Regions from separate parts of the Homo sapiens genome. Here all the other regions are linked to region 2. Evidence: fine-mapped expression QTL. A gene starts in region 2. Each other region holds a variant in brackets. All regions are shown on one strand. Distances are from middle to middle.

The links.
Region 1: its variant is fine-mapped to the expression of IKZF1 in B cells (Fairfax 2012, PIP 0.95).
Region 3: its variant is fine-mapped to the expression of IKZF1 in whole blood (TOPMed, PIP above 0.99).

Annotation. Positions count from the first base shown.
Region 1 is chr7:50,400,679-50,408,862 of GRCh38, reverse strand. It overlaps IKZF1 (IKAROS family zinc finger 1), which reads right to left. Exons shown (of 8, transcript NM_006060.6): 8 at 3,762-8,184. Among named protein-coding and RNA genes, the nearest start is that of FIGNL1, 46 kb to the left of the region's middle. The variant A/G (reference allele first, on the strand shown) is at 3,271.
Region 2 is chr7:50,300,846-50,308,999 of GRCh38, reverse strand. It overlaps IKZF1 (IKAROS family zinc finger 1), which reads right to left and starts at 4,284. Exons shown (of 8, transcript NM_006060.6): 1 at 4,078-4,284. RefSeq lists a silencer at 4,172-4,971 and an enhancer at 5,826-6,327.
Region 3 is chr7:50,247,957-50,256,140 of GRCh38, reverse strand. No RefSeq gene overlaps it. Among named protein-coding and RNA genes, the nearest start is that of IKZF1, 53 kb to the left of the region's middle. The variant G/A (reference allele first, on the strand shown) is at 3,316.

The DNA.
Region 1 (8,184 bases), 100 kb before region 2:
AAAGCCTCTCTTCTGCCTGGATGGCATGGCCCCCTTCACTGTCTCCAGAGTTCTCATTGCATCACCCCCTCCCCCTCACCTCCTAAGACTCCTGGATGCCTCCCTATCCACCTGTTCAAACTCCTCCTATCCTCAGTCTACATTTCTGAATTTATCTCCTATTTTTTTCCCCTTGAGTACTCTTTCCCAGACAAACAGGGCTATTGCTGTTGGACTTCTGGTTCTGACATACAACAGATTTCATTCACATTTGTTCTGTCTTGAATGCCCTTCTTACACCCCCAATCCTCTGCTTCCAACATCAAAATCCCAATCATTCCGAAAAGCTGGGATCAGACAAGATCTCTTCCAGGAAGCCTTCTGTAATCCTCAAGTGAGAAGTGATGTTTCCTTCCACTGGGCTTTTACAGCACTTTAGAGCGCTTTTCATTGCACCTTGTTTTGTAATCACCTTTGTGCTGGGTCATTTCTCCCTGTGCTTTCTAGAGTGCAGGCACAGGAGTCAGGTGCTCAGGGACAAGTGCTGGTCCTAGTATTTCCAGCTGTGTGACCCCAGGCAGGTTACTCAGCTTTTCCAAGCTTCGAAGTCCTCATCTGCAGAACTGGAGGTGACAATGGTACTTGTAGAGACAGACAGGGAGTACACATGGCACAAGCAGGTGGTTACAGCGCCCAACCCCTGTGATGCTGTGAGCCTTGATCCCAGCACATAGCCAGGCACTGAAGGCTGAGGAGCGATGTGATGTGAGTGGGTCAAGTCATTATGTGATGTCAGGAGTGTCTCTTTTATCAAGAAGATATTGATTTACTTTATTTCCAACTTCCCAGTCTCTGCTTTGCAGCTCAAGTTATTCAACAAACCAATGAAGGATCTTAAGATTAAGAAGAGCCAGAGACAAGATGCAGTGCAGAGAGAACAGAATGGAGTCAAAAGTCAAATGTGTCAATGTGTGTTGGGGGCAGGGACACAGAGGGGGCACTGTCTAATTGGGGGAAATGTCCCTGCTCTTGTCCTTGGTCTTGAGTTTATTGGTTGTAATTGTACTCATCTTTGACTAGATACCTCTAGGCTCCCTGATATTTTTCAGAGCTCTCCCAGTCCACTGATGCTTAGCTTAGCTTGTGTTTTCAGCTCTCTGAAACATCCTTTCATTGCTCAGACTCTGTTTGGCTCTCATTTCTTTTCCTGGTCCTTCTGCCCTTCTGTTTCTAGTTCAGATTCATGCATTCTCCTTTCAGAGACCAGCTCTCCAGCAGCATCAGCCACATTGCATGCTCTGTGGGGCTGGAGGGGACCAGAGCTGTCCAAAAACCCCCAACCCCACCTCCTCACTCTGTGCCTGCCCTGGCATATGCCCTCGAGATGCCTCTGAATTCTCTGAAGTGAAAGAGCCTGCTCCCCTAGGTGGAGGTTGGGAAACTTGACATGCAATTTGTGGGTGAGTTTGGTTGAGGAGGCAGCCAAGGGAAAACCCTCTGAAAGCAGGTTTTCACCCGCATCTTTCTCCTCCCCTCCCTGGAATTCAGAAGCTATGGGATTGCCAAACCCTGTCATTCCCACGTATCAAATCCCACATCCTCCCTGGAGGAAGCACTGCCGAGATGGAACAGGAGCCAAGAGAAGAATGGGCTTGAGGGGCCTGGGCCCATCCTGCCTCTGCAGCACTGGACTCTGGGTGCTCTGTGGAGCCCTGAGATGCAGTTCTTTCACTTTACGATGGGGCACATATCATCTTCCCCAGGCTCACCCAGAACATGCCCAGCATGGTGATGGCTGAGAAGGAGGTTTGCTGCTTCGCAGACACAATTGTTTGATCTCTAAGGGGGATGTGGATGGGTCCCTGTCTCACTTGGCTGTCATGCAGCTGGAATGAGATAAGGGGGCTAGAAGGAGCTATACAAACGCCAGGTGAGGCAGGAAAGGCTGAGCAGCCACTCCCACAGCACTGAGTCCAGTGGTCCACAGACACTGAGGATTTAATCCTTCCTGTAACCCTCCAGGCTTTCAGTGAGGAGAAAACTGGGGCTCAAAGAGGTTAGACCATGTGTCCCATGTCACACAGCGTTAATGTACAGAGCAGATATTCACACCCAGGCTTCGCAGCTCCAGAGTCCCATTCCTAATCACCATGCCTTATGCACATCTTAACATGCCCAGAGGGACACCTCTAAGGCAGGGCCACCTTGTGCTCCTGGCTGAGGAAATGGCACTTGGCTTTGGAGTAGCAGGAAACCAGGGGAGATCTGTGTGCAGGGCAGTGTCAGTGATTGATCAGGTTCCTGGTTTAACACAATCACTATTGAGAAGTCAAAAGTCTAGGTAGGATTAAGGAGACTTGGGAGGTAAGGAGGCCTTTAGGAGGCTCCCATTGAAGGAGGGCCAGGGAGAGAGACTGTGTGACACTGAGGGTCACTGTGGAGACCAGTGGCAGCTGGGGCATGGCCTTCCATCTTAGTGGACCATGGAGGGCCAGGTGAACAGGCTTGGCTTCTCCATTAAGGTAAACAGGCTGAGATCCAGGGGTGATGCAGGGATGGCTGTGGACTCTATTTTCTCACTCCTGTCTCCATGTGGATGGACTTTGGTAAAACCCCTTGCTGGACCCCAGGAGGAAAGGAGTGGCCTGGACTTGAGTCTGGACGTAGGAACCGAGTGCGCTTCCTATTGCTGCACGGGGGTCTGCTGCCTATAGGGTGTAGGTTCTGGTCCCCTCTCCCTGTCCTGCAGGGCAGGGGCTCAGCCTTTGCTGGGGCCTCCTAAGTTTAATTGCTACCTGTGGCCAGGTGGGCAAGTCTGTCTAATGCAGAACGAGTGTAATGCCCGCTGGGGTCACACCGTGAAGCTGTGTCCTCTCATCTCGGTTTTATGAGTAAGAAAGCTAGTTTTTTGGTTTCCCACTTGTTGATTCTTTTATCTATAATATCTGGGTTGTTTCAAACTCAGGGGGAAAAAAAAGAGACTATTATTGGTTCCTCCCCTCCCTTCCAAAAATGGGTTTGGGCCCAGGAAGAGAGGCAAGGCTGTAACTGTCTCTAGGAGGAATGGACTGGGAGTCTGCTTAGCACGACTTGGTGGCTGGTCCCACACCTCGAGGGTGGGCTGTGTCCAGACCTCCAGCTCCAGAATGTTCAGGAGGAGGCTTCTGAAAGCTGCATTTTTAACAGCCACTCAGATGATTACAAGCTGCATTTGGGAAACAAAGTCCTGGGAGATCATTGGAGGCACTGGAGCCGGGGCAAGGCTGGAGTCGGTGAGGGAGTCTCATGGCA[A/G]CTCAAAACTAGGGAATGGTTTTGCTCAGGCCTGTTTAATGGCAGGAGAAGCCAGTGGGAGCCTAGGATGCTGAGGGCAGGGTTGCTATTCTAAGAGCCACGGGGAATCCCTTTCTGCCTCCTTAGAGGAAGTTAGGGGCGGATGATTTGCAAAAAGGCAGAGAAGACAGATCTGTGCAGGCAACAGCAACATTTTGCCTTCAGCTCCGCACAGCAACACTGTGCCAGCCCGTTCTGGGTTCTGGTGCAGAGAAAAGGCCAGAAGTTTTCAGAAGGATTTCCTGGGCTTTGGAGGAACGTGGAGTTTCGGTCTTGGTTGTCAAACTTCCTCCAGGTCTTTTACCAATTGCTCAATCCCTTGAGTGTGTCTTTTGTGCCTAGCCCTGTGTTGGAGTTGTAAGGCCATAAAAGAAAAGACATGAGTTTTGGGAACAGCCAAAGGGATTTCGTTCCTTGAGAACCCATATGCTTCCAATGAGAATGTGAGAAGGTTTCACCAAGGAGTCATAACCTCCAAGACATTTTATTTTGACAGAAAAGGTGTGACACATCCATCAGAAATGGGATCAGAAATTTTTGGTCTCCCAGTCCCCAGTCCTGATTTTTAATTCCCAATTTCAAAATTCTATACTAACATCCAAACTATAACTTGACTTTTAAATTTACCCCACTCCTCGGGAAGAGAAGTGCAATGCAGGCAGGCAGCTGTTTCCAGGAGATCAGAAAAGGGTAAATGAATACTCAAGATTTACAGCGTCAAAAGGCTATGTTGAGGATAATTCTTATGACTATGTAAAAGACAAGGTAGTGAAATTGTGAGGGCCCTGGGCCCGGCCACTCACAGAATGACTGAAGCATGCTGCAGTGGAGAACTGGAAATGTATCTCTTGTTGCCCTCCATCTCCACCCACCCTCAAGACTGGGACTTAGAATTCCCACGTCCAGCACTGTTGTAGATGGGAGGTACGTTGTGCTGAACTGCTGCGCTGGCCACATCAAGACACCACATGTGTTCCCAAGTGGTATTGCAGCTGTCCTGAGGCCCATCTCTTCTCCCTCTCATATTGGGATCTCATTGGGAGAAAGTCTAGGCAGATTCCTGCTCTGCTGGGCCTTCTCTTACGCCAGTGTGGACTTCACGGGATAGGGCAGACAGAGTATTCGTTGCATTTATTTGTTCTATCACTACAGAAGAAGCATTTCAAAATGTGTACAAAAGGATACTCTATTCCTCCAGTGGTACATCCCTTGTTCACAGCTAAACAGCAATAATTTAACATCATCATAGAGGCAGACTGGAAATATGACTGCATTTCTCATTTACAATCCTGTGCATGTACTCGCCAGAAGGGCAGCTGAAGACCTAAAGCTGTACTGGATACAACAGATTCGACCTGAACAATCACCACACACAACATTATAAAAAACTGTATTAGAAAGTATTGGAAACAATATTGCATATTAATATGTGGTTACACATGTTCACAGTGAGTGCCATCGCACCAAAAGCATTATGTGCTTCTTTTTTCTGATGCCTGTACATCTTAAATAAGTCTAATAATTTTGGTTCATCTTAAAGTAAAAATACATTGAAATGAATGAGAGAGATCTAGATTTTAAAAAAGTTGACCATTCATTATTGCTGGAACTGAAGAAAGGAAGGATACACTGGCATCACGATTTGTCTACATAAGTCCAGTTCATCTCGCGTTTGTTTTGGCAAGAAGAGGACACTACAAAACTCACAGTGCAGTCAAAACAAAACAAAACAAGAAAAAAGCACAAAAATGGTCGGTGGGGAACCATATAACAAAACTACATCTCAGGCAGCTCTTTCTCAAGGAAGATTCTAAGATTTTATTATGTGGCTAATTCTAAATTGGAAATGGAACATGCTGGTATGTGAAGCAATTGGTGCTAGGACTTTACCCTTTGCTGATATGCAATGATAATGTGATGAGTTTTAGTGACTCTTGAATTAGGATAATCACACTCTTTAGGTACAAATTACAGAAGGGATATGGGGCAAGGAGCTGAGATCCAGGCTTTCCACATCCTGGGAAGCTGGGGTGTCAGGGAGGGGGCGGAACAAGACACAGCGATTACTAGCTGTAATCAACAGGCCAACCTGTTACCCTCCGGTCTCCAATATTTACTTCAAACACAACGAGAGTGCATGGAATCTAGGCACACAGTAGTACACAGCGGTACCCAAGACACACACTCACGCCATCATACAACAGAAGAAACTACGCAAAAAAAGTGTGAAGTCATGCAAACTCCTACTTTACCAGCTAGAAGAGAAACTTCAGCAACTTTTGGTACATGATATGGCCACCTTTTAAACATAAGTTAATTACTTGCTGACATAATATGAAACCTTACTTTAAATACAATAGTTTCAAAGAAAAATGGTGTTACAATATAAAACCACAACAAAAGGTGTGCAAAGAGACATTTATATTGGCTATAAAAGGCAGTGAGAGGAAAGGGCAAAGCAGTTTAGAAAAGAATTCCTGCAATCACTATTTACAGTTCTGGTTTGAGCTTTGTTTGAATTCCACTTGAAAAAATAACTCCCTTCAACCAACTGACTCAGGGGGATGGATGGAAAAGAACAGAGTAGGTGAAATTTGCAACAAACTGACTCTAAGAAGGCTCTCACCTTAGAGATATTAACTTGGATAAGGCGCATCTTTCTCTGTGATTGCATATTGAAGGAGTGCTGTCTAAAGCCCTTGATCCTCTGTCTCTCTTCCTTCACTCAGTGCATTGGTGCAGCAATTTTGTTTATTCCCGTTTCCAAATGCCACACCCTTCTGTGAGCAGAGAAATCCATGACTCAAGAATGGTATCTTTGTAAACTCCATCTTTTCAACAAAACTCAAATGTTTATGAGGAAATATATTTTTAAGACCGAAGGGGAATAATTGATTTATAGAATTTATAATGACTCCACATGAACACAAGTCAGCCTTGATACTGCTGACCGGGAATATTGGGAATATTCTTCAAGTGCTTTTCTATTTTTTTTCTTGGAGGGCTTCCCAGACATTTGATTGGTTTAGAATTCATTTGGGTCAGTGGTTCTCCCCCAGGAGTGATTTCTCCTCGCAGGGGACAGTTGGTGATGTCTGGAGAGTTTGGGTTGTCAATTCGGGGTGCTACTGGCGTCTATTGGGTAGCCACCAGGGATACTGCTAATTATCCTACAATGCACAGGAGAGCTCCCGCCTAACAAATAAGTAGTCAGCCCAAAATGTCATAGTGCTGAGACTAAGAACCCCTGTTTGGATTAAATGCTGAGGTACTTATGTACAATTTCCTCTCTGTTGCTTCATTTCACCTTGGGACAGTGTTGGTGAAGACAAGTACTGTAAATATTTGAAATGGTATATTCTTCATTGCCTAGGTGGTTGAGAGTAATGACCTTAATGATTGATAGCATTAATCTTGAAGGAGACCCTTGCTTGTTGGGATTAGAATCTCCACACACCTTCCTCGGGCTTCAGTGCCTCCATGTCATAGCACGGATGGGCGGGGTTCTCACCTGCAGTGCCATTTGCCTCCTCTTTCCTAGGGGATCTGGTGGCATTACTCTCCGAAGGTCTGGCTCAGTCCCTCAATTGCCCTGTGCATTCCAATATCCTACAGGTGCAGAGCCAGCCATCCTATGTATGTGTGGACACACATGCTGGCTTGCCTTTACAGTAAAGAGCTTCAACATGTTTGAAAGCTTGGTTTCAAACAGGTGAGCTCTGTGTGTTAGCAACAGAGATGCTGGGCTTCACATATTTCATTGAGTTGAAAATTAATGACTGTTCTAAATCACTCCTTTATGGGTTTTAAAACGAGAATAATATATAGTGAGGGTAGGTAAAGAAACTTACCAACACTGAGAAATTCAGGCTTGTGGCTACAAACAGATGTACATAATTAAAATGAGGGCTAGGATTGGATTTCTTCAGGAAAAGAGGCCTCTGGTACTAGATGGAACCAGCCAGGGAAGGAAGAGATTTGAAATAAAGCTTTGGTTTCTGAGGAATGTTGCCGTTTGAGAGATTCAAAAAGAAAGAAGATCCAAATTTCGGGACTGGTGTTTAAATTGTAGTGACAGATTTTGGGGGCCATTAAAGGTATGGGAGTGAAAAAGCGGGGAACAGGGCTCCCCAGATATGCCCACGGGAAGACAGTCTCCTCCTACGGGGCAGCAAGCCTCGGGAGGCTCAGGCCATCTGAGCAGCCTCCGCAAAGCCAGTGAATCCAGGACGATCCCAAAGGCTCTAGCCCGGCGTCTCCCTCCACCCAGGGCAGTCTGACAGACACGACTTTCCCCAACCAATTCATTTTCCTACGCAGAATATGACTTGAAATAGTATTTTCTCTCACAAGTGCAGCCTCTCCGCCCTAGATGCATGTAGCTCGAAGCTGGCCTGGGCACAGGTTGTTGGCCCTGCTGTGTCTTGGCACTTGGGTGGCGGCACACCTGTCCTGTCTGCTCACCTGCAGACCCACACAGCAGGGGCTGTGCTCTCTGCTTCTGGGGACTGGAAAAAGACACCTGGTGCGCGAACCCCGTGCTTAGCACAGGGTAGAGCACGCTCCTTCCCAGGCTGTGGCGTGTTTTATCTATTTCTCTCTGAAAATTTAGACTAATCGTTTGGAGAAGGGGATTCTAGGAAGCGACAGGTGAGGGAATCTCAGCCAGCGGTCTGGGGAAACATCTAGGAAGGTAGCAGTTCTGGATGCTCCCAATGCAGCCCTGCCTCTAAAAATAAAAATCTTTTCAAAAGCAAATCAAACCCCAATCAACCAACTCAAACAAAAAACAAAAAACAGTTACAAATCCAAACACAACATTGTCTGGTCCAGTCCAGTCTATGCTGCTGGCGGGAGCGAGAAGGCGGCAGTCCT
Region 2 (8,154 bases):
CCACCCACTGTGGAAACACCAGCAGGGAAGACGGAAGAACACAATGGCTATTCCAATCCATGCAAGCACACAAAGAAACCGTGTGGCACTCACCAACCAACCGAGGCCTCGCCAAGGCCAAGTGAGAGCTGCCTTTTCCACACAAATCCAGACTTTGAGGACCTAGGGCTGCTCGGAGTTCCCCTCAGACCCAGCCACCTGGGAGGGATCTTGGTGCCTGGCTACAGGGCCTCTGTGTCCTCTTCCTCCTCCAAAAGGTTCCTCTGCTGCCTTCACACTCCACCAGGGTGCAGAGAAAGGTGGAACCACTTGCCAAATATGCAAAAAAGGAGGGAAGACCGTTTTCTCTTAGGAAAACACAGACAGGAAGGGAGCCTGTGCTTCCTGTCCTAACCAAAACGAGTTCAGAAATTATGTGGACGTCTGATTTGTCAGGCTTGTGGTGGAAAAGGGTGCTCTTTTAGTCAACAGGAATTGTGAGTTCCCCAAAGGCAGAAATGGCCATGGGAGAAAAGAATTAAGGCCAGGCCTGTTAACAGGCAAGACAAATGGCCCCCACACCTGTGACCTAGGGTTTGCACCATTTTTAACAGTTTATTACCAGGTGGTTGGCTGAAGGCTCCACTGGCAACTACCTATTTATTATAGTCAAACATGAGAGGGAAAAACGTCAACTGAAACAATTTGGCAGTTGCCTGTAGATTAGGCCTCAGTTGCTCTTCCTCCAGGCCCTTCTCAGGAGTAACCACCAAGGAGACACCAAAATGGGCAGGCCCGCACTTCGCCACTTAAAAACCTTCTGCAAACCTTCTTTTGCTTGCTGTTTTATCTCACTTGTAATATATGGCACTTCATAAGGTTTCATAATGTCTTAAAAAATATTTGTTGGAATATTACCAAACATTTAAAAACTCAAACTAAAGCTACTAAAGTGACGACACTGAAACTTTAAGGACATAAACATATATTCCAGGAGATGTGGAAAGGTAACCTGAGATATGAAGTCATTTATTAAACTGCAAAGAAATACAAGAAAGCCATGGTCCACATGAAGACACCAGCATGAGTGTTCAGTCAGCACTACAGTAAAAACAGCTTTGTTACTGTCGATATCCTTTGGTTTTAGGTGCTCTGCGTCCCTAACAAAACCTCATTCCTATCTTGTTCCTCATCTGAATTTTAAGTGTGTGTGTGTGTGACAGTGTGTATAATGCTGATCCTCTGAAACTCTACGTTTCTAAGACCTAGATCAAAAATGTACATGTGCCCTTTTTGAGCAAAATAAAACTGATCTGTTTTCAAGACGTGAAATAGATTAATGTTTCTCTTCTTGTAAGCTTCAAAGGATGGGTCACTTGTTGCTTTTACATCTTGTGTTTTCTCCCATAAAATGGAATGATTATTCAGCACAAATATGAAATGGAATAGAGCTGAAGTCTCTGTAGTTATGAACATAGAGACACCAGAGAGAGAACAATGTTCACAGCCAGGACAGGAGCTGCAGCAACTCTGCCGCTAGAAGCAGGCGTCACAGTGCCCCCAGAGTGCTTGTCAGTCTTAGAAACAGAGGCATCGGAAGACAAGCGTTTTCAGAGAACGCAAAAAGGTCGTGGTTTACCTTCTGTAAGCTGGAGTGGAGCCACTTACATCAATCTCCCTTAGAATATGACAAGAACCAACATTTATTTCATAGTGAAATTATTTCACAAGTCCAAAGATTAGAGGAGGAAAAAAAAAATGCCACAAAACAGTGATATCCTTGATGAATTCTTCGTTAACCACAGTTACATTACATTAATACGTACAATTATGCAACACTCAAAAAACGTTATTTATGCCTAAAATTCACCATTATATAACATAGGGAAATCCATCTTGTTTTAGTAAAAGTTTAAAAATAAAGGGGGCCTTTAATACTCATTTCAGGTCTGTTTGATGTTAAAACTCTTCCACACTGCCCCATGCCTCTCACTCCACGCTGTGTGCATGCTGTGTGTGTGCACGCTCTGTGTGCATATGTGCATATGCACATGGAATTTATTTCATGTATCTGTTAATAAATGCATAATCTTGAAGTGTGTGTATAAGTACATTAATATATAGAGAGTTCTTTCCTATTTCAAAATTTTTGACATTTATATTGAAAATATGCTATATTAACCACGCATGAAACACACACATCCAAATCAAGAACAAAAAATGTATCCAAACCAAAGAACCACTGTTCTCAAACTCCAAGTCTCTAGTCAAACAAGGAAGACAGTGGCCTGCAGTACAACAGGGCTTTAGACCTCTTGGCTAATACATTCACTGCGATCTTAGTTTTTCGACAAAGGAAATGGCTACAAACGGCCACAGCTGATCTTCTCTTTAGGAGCCTGTGTAAAACTCTTCGAAAGGGTCAAACCTAACACATCCAGACTTTTATCTGCAGCCCTTGTGGTCTCCTGGAGACCCTGAGGGTGGGTGATTATTGCTATGATGTTTCTGCATTAGGGGGGTGTGTAGTTTTCCAAGAGGTACCACTCTAATTAGAACACTGATGAATTAAACAAGTACTGGAGAGTTTCTAAACTCCTTCCTTCAACTCTCACCGTGAAACAAAAGGGGAAGAAAACATGACCATTTAGTTCAATAAAATGTTCTGGTCACCAGCTCTGATTGACTGTGAGACTTAAGAGTCACGTTTTTTTTCATGTAAAAAATGTATGAAATATGTTCATGGTGAAATTGGAAATCAGATACATTCCATCAAGCAAGAATAGTGTAGTATTTTTAATGTGACATCATTATTTGTATGTGTACACATTATTTCTTTAACTTGTTCTGCATTTTACAAGATGCCAGCGTAAGAAGGTGAATCTTCTTGTCATGAATATTTGCCTCGTGTACATTTTAAGCCATAGCCCAAATGATCTGATTTGTCACGGAAATAATTCTGACACATTCTAATATAAATAATACTGAAATTGTTACTTTTTAAAATTCCATATAAAAGATGAGTACAATAAAACTCATTGAACAAACATCTTCAAACAAAGAAATAAACTCAAGAGGACCCAGGACATTTCTATGTGGGTCCCCCCCACCCCTCGACTCATAACCAAATTGAACCTGGCCTTAAAAGCATTTGAATGTCTATGAAAGTTTAAATATCATACGCAGTATTTTCAAATTCCATAAATTTTCCTCTTTTAACAGAAGTTGATGGGACTAGTAAGGAGACATTTCCTCAACACCATTTTGTCTGGAATTTTAAAACAAGGTATCTCAAAGCTGAAATATACTGCCTGCGGCGCAGTGGGAAATTGTGAGTGGGTAACCTAAGCAAAGCGCACCGCATTGAAATTCAGTCTGGGTGGGCTGCAGTCCCTAGAGAGAGGGAAGCTGCATTTGAAAGCTGTGCCTGGTCAGACCCTATGGAATCGCTACGGTTTTCGGTCATTAGATGCCTCCAAATTAGAAGGAAAAACAAGCCCTCACGAGGTTCCTTAGGCATCAGCAGCGATGCTTGACAAATATTTAAAATACATTTCAAATATAACCGCAAGTAACCTGATGCCTTAATATTACTAAGGGTTTTCCTGAGAAGGTTTGGTGACTTGAGCGTCAAACCTGCGGTCAGCAAAAGGACTAACTTTTCAAAGCCGGGATAATTCCTCTCTTGCAGAAATTAAGTTCAGACTCGATCTCATCATATTTATAGTATAAAAAGAAAGCTCCCGGCTCAAATATAAGGAAAACTCTTTACACACGACTTTATAAAGGCTGACTTCCGTGGGTATATGTAGGTCTACATAAATTTAAATATGGTTGGGAGCTAGAACTCCTCTCCTGGTGACAGCGGGGCTGCTCAGAAGTGTCCCATGTCGGCCTGGTCCTGCACCTGCTGGCACAGTGCAGAGCAACAGACGCTTGACAGAAGTGAACTCTCTCACTGTCCTCAGAAAAGAGAGGCGGACCTGAGCGACACCAGGGTCTACCAACCTTACCGCTTTTCTTTACTGTGTTTTTTTTTTTTTAAATTCACCAGTTACCCCAAGTTTTCCTATTGAAATTCAATTTGAAAACACTCACGTGGATTTGTGCGTCGCGCTTTGGGGCCAAGACTGATCCTCGGGTGCGAAGAGCAACCTCGGAGCCGGGGCTCCCTCTGCCCTGCCAGGCTTGCCCGCCTCGCCGCGGCCGAGCGTCCCGCCCAGGCTGGGATGCGCCGCGCGGGGACCCAGGGGGCTTGCCGCAGTCACCGCCCCGGGCGCGGGCCGCGCAGTCACTTGTTAGAGTGTCCTGCTAACTTGGCCGCGGAGCTCTTCCCAGCTTTCTTTCACAATGACTTCCTGAAGTTGCTCACTCGCATTGTTCCCCATTTCTCCGCCACACTCCCCGCCCCCAGCCGGCTCAGACCAGGCTTTCGCGCTCCCGGCCGACCGGCTGCCCCGCGCGCACAGCGCCGCCCGCGGGCCCCGTACCTGGCCCCCTCCGCGCCGGCCGCCCCCGCCGCGCCCTTGCGTTGCCACCAGCTGCCGCCCAGAGCGGCGGGTGGCCAGAGCGCGCGCCCTGCCACCCCGCAAACTTTGGGGTGACGCACGCTGGCGGTCCCTGCTCGACCTGCCCCGCAGCCGGCTCGGCCCCGCGCGCACCTCTCGGCCGCCTCCCGGATCGCTGCTCCGGTACAGGGAGCGGGGCGCGCAGAAGGGCGCAGAGCGGGACACGGAGAGGGTGCGTCGTCCCGTCCCCGCCCCGTCGCCGAGTCCCCCGGCTCGCGCGGCGCGCGTCTCAGCCGCAACTCCGGGCCAGAGGGGCCGCGCACGAAAACTTTGCAATCGCGCCGGGCTCCGGCTCAGCCCCCAAAGGCCGCCGGGGCGGCGGCGGGTGCGGGCCGTACCTGCTGGCGCCGCCGCCGGCTGCAGCCCGCTCGCCCGCGCCGGGCCCGCTCGGCGCGCCGCCGCCACCCCCGCGCGCACCGCGCCCGGGCCCTCCCCTCGCCGCCGCGCTTCCTCATTCCAGCGCAGCATCGCGCCGCGGCCCCGCACGGGATGCGGCGGCCGGCGCTGTGTCCGCGGGCCGGGCAGCCCGGCTCGGCCGCGGCGCTGCGGGACCCGCGCGTAACCCGTGGGGGCGCGGCGCGGGCGACACGTGCGGGCCGCCAGGAGGGGGAGGGGGACGCGCGCCGCCGGGCCCGCCACCCTGCACCCGGGGCCGCTGGTCGGTCGGGGCACCCTCACGCTCGCCCCGCTGGCGAGACTGGAGGGACTCGGGACATCGTAAAGCACTTTCCCCAGTGTCTGGGAGCGCCCGCTGTACGCTCAGCTTCACGTCCCTGGAACTGGGGCCCCTTGGCTCCCGGGTTCAGGCTCCGGCCCCAGGATGCGAGTGCCCACCCGAGGGGGTGGGAAAAGTTGATCCTCCGCAAGGGAGGGGAAGGTGCAATTCATTTTCCCAGACAACCAATGGAATACCTCTCGTCTCTCTTCCCTCCCACCTGCTCACGGCAGAAGTTAGGATGGCGCCTTCCATGTTGGCCTGGGTGCACACACAAGTGCGTGCGGAAGGGTGGCTGCAGGCGGAGGTGACAGCGAAGCAATCCCGCAGCCCGCTCGACGGCTCTTTGCGTCTCAGACCTCTCCCTGGCGTGTAAGACACCGTGTGTCTCCGTAAAACGGGAATGCCACATCTGACAGCGCACCCCTTCGCCCTACGGGGAGCCCCTCACTCTAATTAGCCGGGCTCCACCCGAGCAGGAGCCAGCAATGTGTTCAGCTTGAGCAGGAGAGAAAAAGTCATGAATTCCACAAATGCAGCCTGGGCTCCCGCCAGGCGCTAGGGGAGGGGACCCAGAGGAGTGAGATGCGCCTCCTGCCCTTCCAGACTTGTAGGAGCCACCAGGAAGGCACAGAATAAAAATCCCGGGCACCCCTGTGAGGAGGAGCGCCCTGTGAAGAGGGCCGAGAACGTGCTCCTGCTTGGGCGCGGTGGTTCGGGAAGGCGTGAAGACCCATAGGGAGAGCGATGAAAGACCAAGGGAGCCTCCTCAGGGTAGGACATGCAGGCGAAGAAGGCACAGGCCTTCCGGGTGGAGGACACAGCCGGGCAAGGGAATAAGCAGGAAATGTCCCTTCAGGGCAGTTGAGTGTGGCTGGAGACCATCGCTGCCGGGGAAGGTCTTGGCCTGGCCCAGGAGGCCTCCAAGTCGGGGGCCAGGGCACACCAGAGACAGGATCTGCCTCTGCTGCCTCTGGGAGAAGGCCCTTTACCCGTGAATCACAAACAGCGTCTATCCACATTCTCCCTGAGCGCATATGCAGCTCTTACTACAGTACTCAGTGTGTCCTGAAGGGCATTCCGCTGGGCAAGTCTGAGCCAGTTAACTCACTGCTACAGCCCAGAGAAGGGGAAGGTAGTGAAAGGTCCATTGATTTACCTTCTAGTCCTCTCCTCCACTGCGTGACCTTGGGCAGGTTATCCAAACTCCTGAGCATCATCTTCCTTGTCTATAAAAAGAATACATGCCACCAATCCTAAAGACTCCTTACCTGGATTAAATGAGGCAATAAACATAAGGTACAAGGCCCAGAGGGAGGCCAACAATGTTGTAAAGGGGACACGGGACACCTCTAGTTCTTGGATGCAGAAGTACCTTTAGCCGCTGGTACGTCTCTCTAAACCTGTGCCTTGGTCTTCAGGAGTGGACCAGTGGACCGAAACATAGGCATCTCACCAAGGTGTAGCCCACTGAGGCAGGAGCATGTGGGGCTAAGAGCCCAGATAGTTTGGGCTTATGAATCTGACTGAGGTCCTTAATCTCTCAAAGCCTGAATTTCCCCATCTGTAAATTGGTGGTGATAATATAACCCTCCTGGTGGGGTTGTTTGTGGGTTAAGGAGATCACATATGGAAGACCTTGCCACATGCCTGACAGAGAGGAGTACTTTCCAAGTAAGAACAGTTATTCCCTGCTAGCCCAACCAATGTCCCAATGAGATGAGGAGTGCACTGTGAAGAGTCAGGCTCCTTGGCTGGGTGCAGTGACTCACACCTGAGTTTGGAGCCCAAGGTGGGAAGATCACTTCAAGCCAAGAGTTCCAGACCAGCCTGGGCAACAAAGCAAGACCCTGTTTGTACAAAAAAATTTTAAACTTTAAAAATCAAACCCCATTTGTATTAAAAATTTAAAAATTAGGTGTTATGGTATGCACCTGCAGTCCCAACAACCTACTTAGGAGGCTGAGGCAGGAGGATCCCTTGAGCCCAGAAGTTTGAGGCTGCAGTGAGCCATGATTGACACCACTGCACTCCAGCTTGGGCGACACAGCAAGACCCTGTCACAAAACAAAACAAAACAGCAGTCAGGCTGCAGGTACCATGCCTTACCCTTGCCCCCAACCGGGTGGAGTTGAAGGAAGTCAAGCTTATATTATTATAACCTGGGGTCTGTGGATAGACTCAGAGGGACCAGAGAGGTGATATAAATCAAATGTTCAAACCCTTAGGGACAACAGTAAAATGCACAATGGATGGGAAAACATATAGGGAGAAATTGGAACATGTAAAACTGTTTTTTTTCATATTATGTCTAAAGTCATTTTATTTTATTTACATATTAATTCATATATTGCCCTCTTCATAATGTTAAAGTATTAAATAAAACACTTTAATTTATTCAGGCAATAATTGCTAAATCACCAATTTTTCTTCTTATGAGGCTGTATTATCGAAAGAATAGAGACCACCTATAGGATTAATCAAAGGCTACTTATTCAGAGCTCACTATGGAAAGAGAGGCAGCTAGGCACTTTTGTCCAGGTAGAGCCTGGATGGGATTTTCAAAAGAGAGTGAGTTTTTTACTTTCAAAGGAAAGTAAAAGGATGATTGAGGTGATACGATATGGTTAATAGTTTTGTTTCTTAGTAACTGTGTTTGGCAAGTTGTTTAAAGCCTGAGCTTCAGTTTCTCATCCGCAGAGCACATCTACTTCACAATGGTCTTGATAGAATTACGTGAAATTCAATGAAATAATCTATGGAAGTTATCATAATTGTATTTTTCTTCAATAAAAAAAGATCTGTTAACAGCAATGAAAAGTGCATGTCTCCTCTGATGGTTGGAAAACAGCAAGAATATTTTTAAATAACAGCAAAAGGTTTTTTTTGCTA
Region 3 (8,184 bases), 53 kb after region 2:
AGGTGCTATGAAAGCACAGCCTGAGGGATCCTCGTGGTGATGGAATGCCTCTTTACCTTGACTGCTATGGTGGATACATGGACCTACACATGGAATAAAATTGATACAACTAGATACACAAGCACACCCTCAAGTATGAGTGAAATGGAGGAAATCTGAATAAGATCAGTGGATTGTGTCAATGTCAATGTCAATGGTTGTGATATTGTTCTGTAGTTTTGCAAGATGTTAGCATAAGGAGACAGGGTCCATTATTTCTTGCAACTGCATGTGAATGTACAATTATCTCAAAAGTTTAAAAGTTTAACCATTAAGTAAATGGAGGGAAAAATGGAAGGAATTTTTTTAAAGTTTAATTAGGACAGAATAAAAAAAAAGGAAGGAAAAAATGAAGCTCAGAACAAGTGCAACAAATAGAAAATGAATTGCAAGATAGTAGATTTAAATCTAAATATAAAAGTAGTGATAATGAAAATTGATAATATTTCAAATAAAAGGACTATGATTGTCAGTCTGAATTTAAAGTTTAAAAAAATAAGATTTATACCTTAGGTATAAGGACACAGAGAGCTTGGAAGTTATTTCTTTGAAAAAGCCAATCAGATTGGTAAATCTCTGGCCAGACAGATAAAAGAATAATGAGAAACACATACATTATCAACATTAGGGATAAAAAGGGGACATTTATAAAGAAGCTATGGACATTAAAAAGCTAATATTAGGATATTATTAAAAGCTTTATGTCAATAAATTTGACAATTCAGATAAAATGTCAAAATCCCTGGAAAATACAACTTTCTAAAATTGACACAATAAGAAATTGAATATTTGAATAATCCTCTATCTAATGAAGATATTGAATCTGTCATGAAATTCTTCCGCTAAAGAGAACTCCTTTCTAATTGGCCTTATTGGTGACTTTTTCCAAACACTTCCAAACAATAGAAAAATAAGAACCTTTCAATTTATTTTTATAATGCTAGCATACCCTGGATATAAAACCTTCAAAGAACATCACAATAAAGGAAAATTAGAAGCCAAATTATTTTCATGAACACAGATACAAAACCCCTAATCAAAATATTAACAAAATCCAGTAATATAATAAACAGCAATACAGACAACTAAAATGGGATTACTCCAAAAAGTCAAATTTTGCTTAATATTGGAACATTAACCAATGTAATTTTCCACATTTACAGATTAAGGAGAAACATCTTATGATTATCTCCATAAATGAAGAAAAAGCATGAGATACAATTGAATACCGATTCATGATAAAAATTCTTAGGAAACTAGGAATCTTTTTTTTTTTTTTTTTTTGAGATGGAGTCTCGCTCTCGCCCAGGCCGGAGTGCAGTGGCACTATCTCGGCTCACTGCAAGCTCCGCCTCCCAGGTTCAGGCCATTCTCTTGCCTCAGCCTCCCTAGTAGATGGGACTACAGGTGCCCGCCACCACGCCTGGCTAATTTTTTGTATTTTTAGTAGAGATGGGGTTTCACCGTGTTAGCCAGGATGGTCTCGATCTCCTGACCTCGTGATCTGCCCGTCTTGGCCTCCGAAAGTGCTGGGATTACAGGCGTGAGCCACCGCGCCCGGCCAGGAATCCTTTCTTGATCTTATAAAGAAAATTCACAAATACAAAACAGAAGGAAAAGAAAATAAACAAAATCCTATGGCAGCTTCCGCTATGGCTGTGTTAGCTCCTGCTGGACCAAACCTCCCAGAGACCAGCTAAAAACCCTGGACAAAACACAAAAATATAACCTGAAGGCACCGGGGTGAATGAACATAGGCAGATGCCACAGTGGAGTTGATACTCGGAAGAAGACACAATATAGGGTAAGTGTTGTCCTTTTTCTTGGTAGGCTTTTAGCTTGCAACAAGACCTGGATGTGTGCCATGCAGCCTGATGTGAGGTGTCTGGGCCAACTGGGATTAAAGAGGCATCAGTGCAGGAGAGGGAGATTGGTTATGGCCAAGGAGATTAATCAAATAAATATTAAGAATAATGAGAGCTAGTTTCTTATTGTTGGAGAAGGATGTTAGAAATATAAAGGAACCAAACTAAAACTATGGTTCTGAATTGAAATCGAAGCTATCTGTAGATTTGTCCATATTATCACCTATGTGTAGGTATTTATACAATGATATGCCCTAGCTCTGTCTCCAAGAAATAGTAGAAACAGCAACATTCAATAGCAATGAGTACACCTAGATCCAGCTCTTGGTTTTGCAATACCATTTCCACCAAATGGGAACCATGGATCTTTGGAATAATGGTTGATTTCAAAGCTAGAACAGAGAAAATATGACATGAGCTTGGAATAGTTTGCTGTGATAAAGTAAGAAAGTTGTTAAGGTTTGAAAAGGAACACATTAAAAGGACACAGAAGAAAACTTGAAGAGGGTCCCACTGTTCAAATCTAGAAGAATTTAAACATTAAAATACATCAGTATAGTAATGGATTGTAATCCACTGAATTTAATAGGGAACCAATAGTTCATAGTGATATAGACAATAAATAAGTGAACAAATTATAACTTTAATGAGGCATGGGATATTTGCATAGTCTCTCAAAGCAGCTACCCATAAAACCCTCAATTAAAAAGGAAAAAAACAATTTTACAGTGAAGAAACATGACACTTACCACTTTAAGCAATCAAAGTCAACATCACTAGTAATGAAACAAATCGAAACTGTGTTTCACTTGATAGGACACAGCAAGACAAATCACAGCACAGCAAATCATGAGGAGACACCAGGCAAATCCAAATTGGGAGAAATTCCTAAAACACCTGGCCTGTATTCTTCAAACCTGTCAAGAACATGAAAGTCAAGGAGATACTGAGTAACTTTTTCAGGTTGAAGAAGACTAAAGAGAAATTATAACTAAAAGCAATGCATGTTTCTAAACTTGATCCCTTTGCTATAAAGGATATTTTGGACCAAATGACGATACTTGAATTGGGTTTGTGGATTGAATGGCAGTCATATAACAATTTTAGTTTTGTATTTTGATAGACTTATGGAATATGTTTTTGGGTAATTTATTTGTTTTTAGAAAATGTACTCTAGTTTGGGATAGATTGAGCATTATGTCCACAACCTGCCATCAATGATTTGAAGGTACAAACTTTTTAGTAGTGTTCTTGAAACTTATCTCTAAATTTGAGATTGTTTCCAGAAAACATTACTGTAAAAAGAAAGAATATGATCAATTTGGAAAAGTGCACATGGGTCTATATGTTTGTAATGTAAGATACATGAAGAAATAAATATAAGGTACATATTAGGTTTTGAAAAAATAGT[G/A]GGAGGTAAAGCTAGAGCTGTATTACAAAGAACCAAATGATTCTTATGTTTGACATTTTAGGATTTTATGGAAAGGAATGTCATGATCTTTCCATAAAGGATGGCATTTTAGAAAACAGCATTCCTGTAGCTTAACAGAAGATAGAAGGAAGAGGGTGGAGACACTTTAAACAGACAGAGTGACTATTTACAAAGCAAGTTAGAGGCAGACCGGGACTCAGGAAGAGATGCTTCAGATTTTGTGTCCATTGCATACATATTACAATTACAAGCCAGCAAGAACGGTTGGAGGGAATGGGTTAATTCTAAACCAAATTGTAATGGGACAAGGAACAACTGGGAGATAAAGAGTGGCAGATTTGGCAATCATGTATCATAATAGACACCTTGGATTTTTAGTTTTTTAATATACCCAGATCATTCCTAAATCATTCAGAGAAGCACAGCTCTATTGCCAAACATGCAAGGCTGTCCTACTGCCTCAGGCCGGCATGTCACCAGGCAGGCAGAACTGAAGCTGAGAGCCTATGGTTGGGACATTCTGACAAGAGTTGGGGAAAGAATGTTTCAGGTATCTGGTGGTACTTGTGACATTTGTGGGAGGTCTTGGGACCATACCAGCGAGGGCTCAGGATGGCAGATGTTTAATGCCACTCCATAGAGGCAGGTTCTGGAGAGGAGAGATGTGCATCGGAGTCTAGGGAACAGAGCTGAGGTTGGATGTCAACAGCAAACCATTGGGAGGGTCTTAGCAGACAAAGAAGGGAGAGCACATGAGGGCCAGTGACAGTGCAGTCAGAGGTGAGATGATATGCAAGCTGGTCCAATGGACACACCCCCCAACCTGTTATGTGGCTGCCCCTCCTGCTCTCTGTGGCGTCCTGAGCTAATCAGGCAGGAATGGAGACAGGCTGAGCAGAAACAGAGCTTCTCTGTTCCAAGAATGTCCTGGGCCTTTCAGAGGCATTATTGTGCTTAATACTTGCACTAGCCCACCAGGTGGTTATTTAGACTTCATTTATACATAGTAAACCTGAGGCTAGGCGCAGAAGCACAGTACTTAATTCAGTGGGAATCCAATGCTGTCTGACTCCAAAGCCCTAGAACTTGCTTCTGCAGCCCTGGCACTTGGCTCAGATCTACTTACAAGCAAGAAAGCTTGTAGAGTGATGCCCAGGACAATGGCAGAATATGTTCCTTCCATAAAGCTGTCAGAATTATAAAATTCAAGATGATGGAGAATCTTCGTATTTTTACCAGTAATCAATGGTGTATCCTAGAATTTTAGAATTCCAGGACTGGCTGAACTTAGTTGCCAATTTATCATTTTTATTTTTAACTGGTTTGCAAATTGTAGCACACGTAATTGAGGCAACTTCACAATGAGGACATTGGATATTAAAGCTCATGGAGGATCTATTAACTTTTTTTTATTATACTTTAAGTTTTAGGGTACATGTGCACAAGCTGAATGAAATGAAGTTTTAGTTACTTCCTATCAATGCTGTTCTCTCTCCTTCATGAATCTATTGCTTCACAGAAAATGTCTTAAAAGACAGAAAACAAAACAACAATAACGAAAAAACACAACCCCTGTCATCTGTTTTAAAACAGTTCTTATAATAATGATAGTTTACAAACTTGTGTGACTTTCAGATCATAATAAAGCATAATAAGTACTGACTATGCTTGTAATAGTTTAACAATTTAAAAATCATTTTAGTGACTATTTTATCATCATCTAAAATATAATCTCTCACTATGGCTACAAAAATAGATGGCAGCTGGTTTGCACATTACTATGATTTTGTGATATTGTTATTTGAATTAATTTGATCATCAGAGTTTTGGACACTGAATGGATTTTAGGTGCACTAAATGAATACATTGAAAATATAGTCAGTGTGACTGGTTTTGCTTTAACTTGAGGGACTTTGATTTGCACTTAAAACCACTTGGCTTCTTCACTCTTTTGTTGGACTTGCTTTTCATGGTCAAGGAACACCCTTTGTAACACTGGTTACACAACCGCCCTCCTGTGTGTTAGGCACAGAAAGTACTCACTACTCCTCTGTCCCACAATGTCCTAGGCACTTGATATTGTCAATCTTTAAGCTTCTTGCCACTGTAATATAATTGTGGCTTTGATTGGAATTCCCCTGCTTACTAATGAGATTGAGCATCTTTTTCATATTTTATTTTTCTCTTGCATGAAGTACCCATTGAAGTAATTTGTTCACTTCTCCATCGAATTGTCTTTTTTGTATCTATATATTGGGACTCTTTTATATGTTTTAAAAAATACTTGCTCAGTGATCTGTGTTGTAAATATTTTATTCCGATGTGTATCATCTTTTCACGTCTTCATTGTACCTCAATTTTCAGACCAATTGGTTAATCATTTCTGCGAATGTGTTTTTCGACTCTTTAAGAAAGTTTTCCCTATACATGGTAATAGTCTACTACATTGCCTTTCAAAACTTTTATAGTTTTGCTTTTAACATTTATGTCATAAATTTACCTTGAAACGATTTTAGTGTATTATGTGAGATAGGAATCCTAGTTCATTTTCTTCCCTATGTAAAAGTAATTGTTGCTGTCCATTTTCCCATGTTCTTCAATGCTAGCTGTCATAACTGGGTTTCTATTTTTTTGTTAAGTCTGTTTCTGGGTACTCTATTCTGTAAGTATATTTGTTTATCTCTATACAAATAAAACATATCTCAATGATCATATTTTTATAGTATGTCTTGATATGTGATAATGTCCATCCTTCCAATGTATTCTTCCCTTCAGCAATGCTCATTTTTGACTGTTGGCTCTTACATATAAATTTTAGAGCTAGCTTGATGTAACCAATTACCTGCTGGAAATTTGGATTTTTCTTGAATAGAAGGATGAATTTGAAGATAATTAACATCTTAATATATTAAGTCTTCCTATACAGATATCTAATTTTTTTGTTTAGGTCTTCTAAATTTGTACATCTATTAATATTATGTTTATTCCTAGGTAATTACAATTTTGGTTTCTATTGTAAATTTCATATTACTTAATATTAAATTTCCACACTGTAAATACTTTTGGCTGAGGTATACAAATGCAATTAACTTTTCTCTATTTATTTTGTATCACACATTCTTTTAAAATTCCATTATTTAATTCTAATAATTCATCAGCAGATTCATTTGGATTTTCTACAGAACATCATATTATCTGCAAATAATTATGGCTTTGTTCTATTCATTTAAGATGTCATTCTCTTATTTTGACATCTTACATGTCATTTAGATGTTCTAGTCATTTACGAGCCATTCTCTTATTTTGTATCCTCTTCTTGTATTTGATTACTGGCTACAGTCTCAGATATAATGTTGAAGGAAAGTGTGATATTAGGAATCGTCATCATGCAACTCATTTTAAACGGGAGGCTTTTAACAGCCCACCATTAAATACGATGTTTTTCCTAGGATTTTATACGATGTTTTTCCTAGGATTTTAGTAGCCTCCTTCTATCAGTTTAAGTAAGTTTTCTTAATTTCCTACTATTCTGAGCAATACTTTCATGAATAATGAATGCTATTAAGTCGCTTTTTCTCATTTTCCCCATTTATGTATAAATATTTTTATCTATCAATGAGTTTTCTGATGCTAAACCATGTAGTTATAAGATGAAACCCTACATAGCCATAACATTCTATACATGTTAGATTTCATGCTGATGTTCTTTCTCTTGTTCTTTGCAGATGAATGAGATTGGCCTATGCTTTTTTTTTTTTCACCTGTTTATTCTTATCTGGTTTTAGTATTTGGAGCAAATTAACTTCATAAACTCAACTAAATAGTATTCTTTTCCTCTGTACTCTAAAAAAGTTTGTATAAGGTTAGAATTTTTTGAATAAATTGTGCAGGAATTTACTTGTACAATTATCAGGCATGATATTTTCTTTTCTCAAAAGATTTTATGCTACTGATTCAACAGATTTAAGGGATGTTGGACTGTTTGATTTTTTTTTAACTCTCCTTGAGTTATTCGTTAAGTTATTTTTTTTCTAGAAATTTGTTAATTCTAGTTTGGTTTACATATTAAATTGCCATCAGGTTGTACTCAGTATACTCATCTTTTTATTTCTTGAAGCATCTATAGTTTGAATTTATTTTCCTTTTCAGAAGTTGCTTCTGTGCATTCTCTTCATAACGTGAAAATTTTCATTAGAGATTTCTTAATTTCATGAGATTTAAAATAAACCTGTTGTTTTGTTTTTCTAATCTGTCATATTTTAGTTCTGTATTTTATTAACTTCTGTTTTTATCTTTACCATTTTGCCCTGTGTACTGTCTTTGGGTTTATTCTCTGCAATTAAAATAGGGTGATTCCCTTTCTCTCTCCCTCTCTCTTTCTCTTTCTCGCTTTCTTTTTTTCTTTCCTTTCTTTCTTCTTTCTTTCTTTCTCTTTCTTTTTTTCTTTCTTTCTTTCCTTCTCCTTCCTCTTCCTCTTCTCCTTCCCTTCCCTTCTCTTCCCTTCCCTTGCCTTCCCTTGCCTTCCTTCCCTTCCCTTCCTGCCTCCCTCCCTCCTTTCTTTCTTCTTTTCTTTCCTTCCTCCCTTCCTTCCTTCTCTCTCTCTCTTTCTTTCTTTTTTTCTTTCTTTCTTTCTTTCTTTCTTTCTTTCTTTCTTTCTTTCTTTCTTTCTTTTTTCCTTCTTTCTTTCTCTCTCTCTCTTTCTTTCTTTCTTTCTCTCCTCTTTCTTTTCTTTCTTGGTTTTACTTCTATACATTTTCTATTAAGTGCTATTTTAGGTAAATCCTATGTGATTTTTTTCCAATTTTTTATTACAATAAAATGCACAGAATATAAAACTTACTGCCTTAC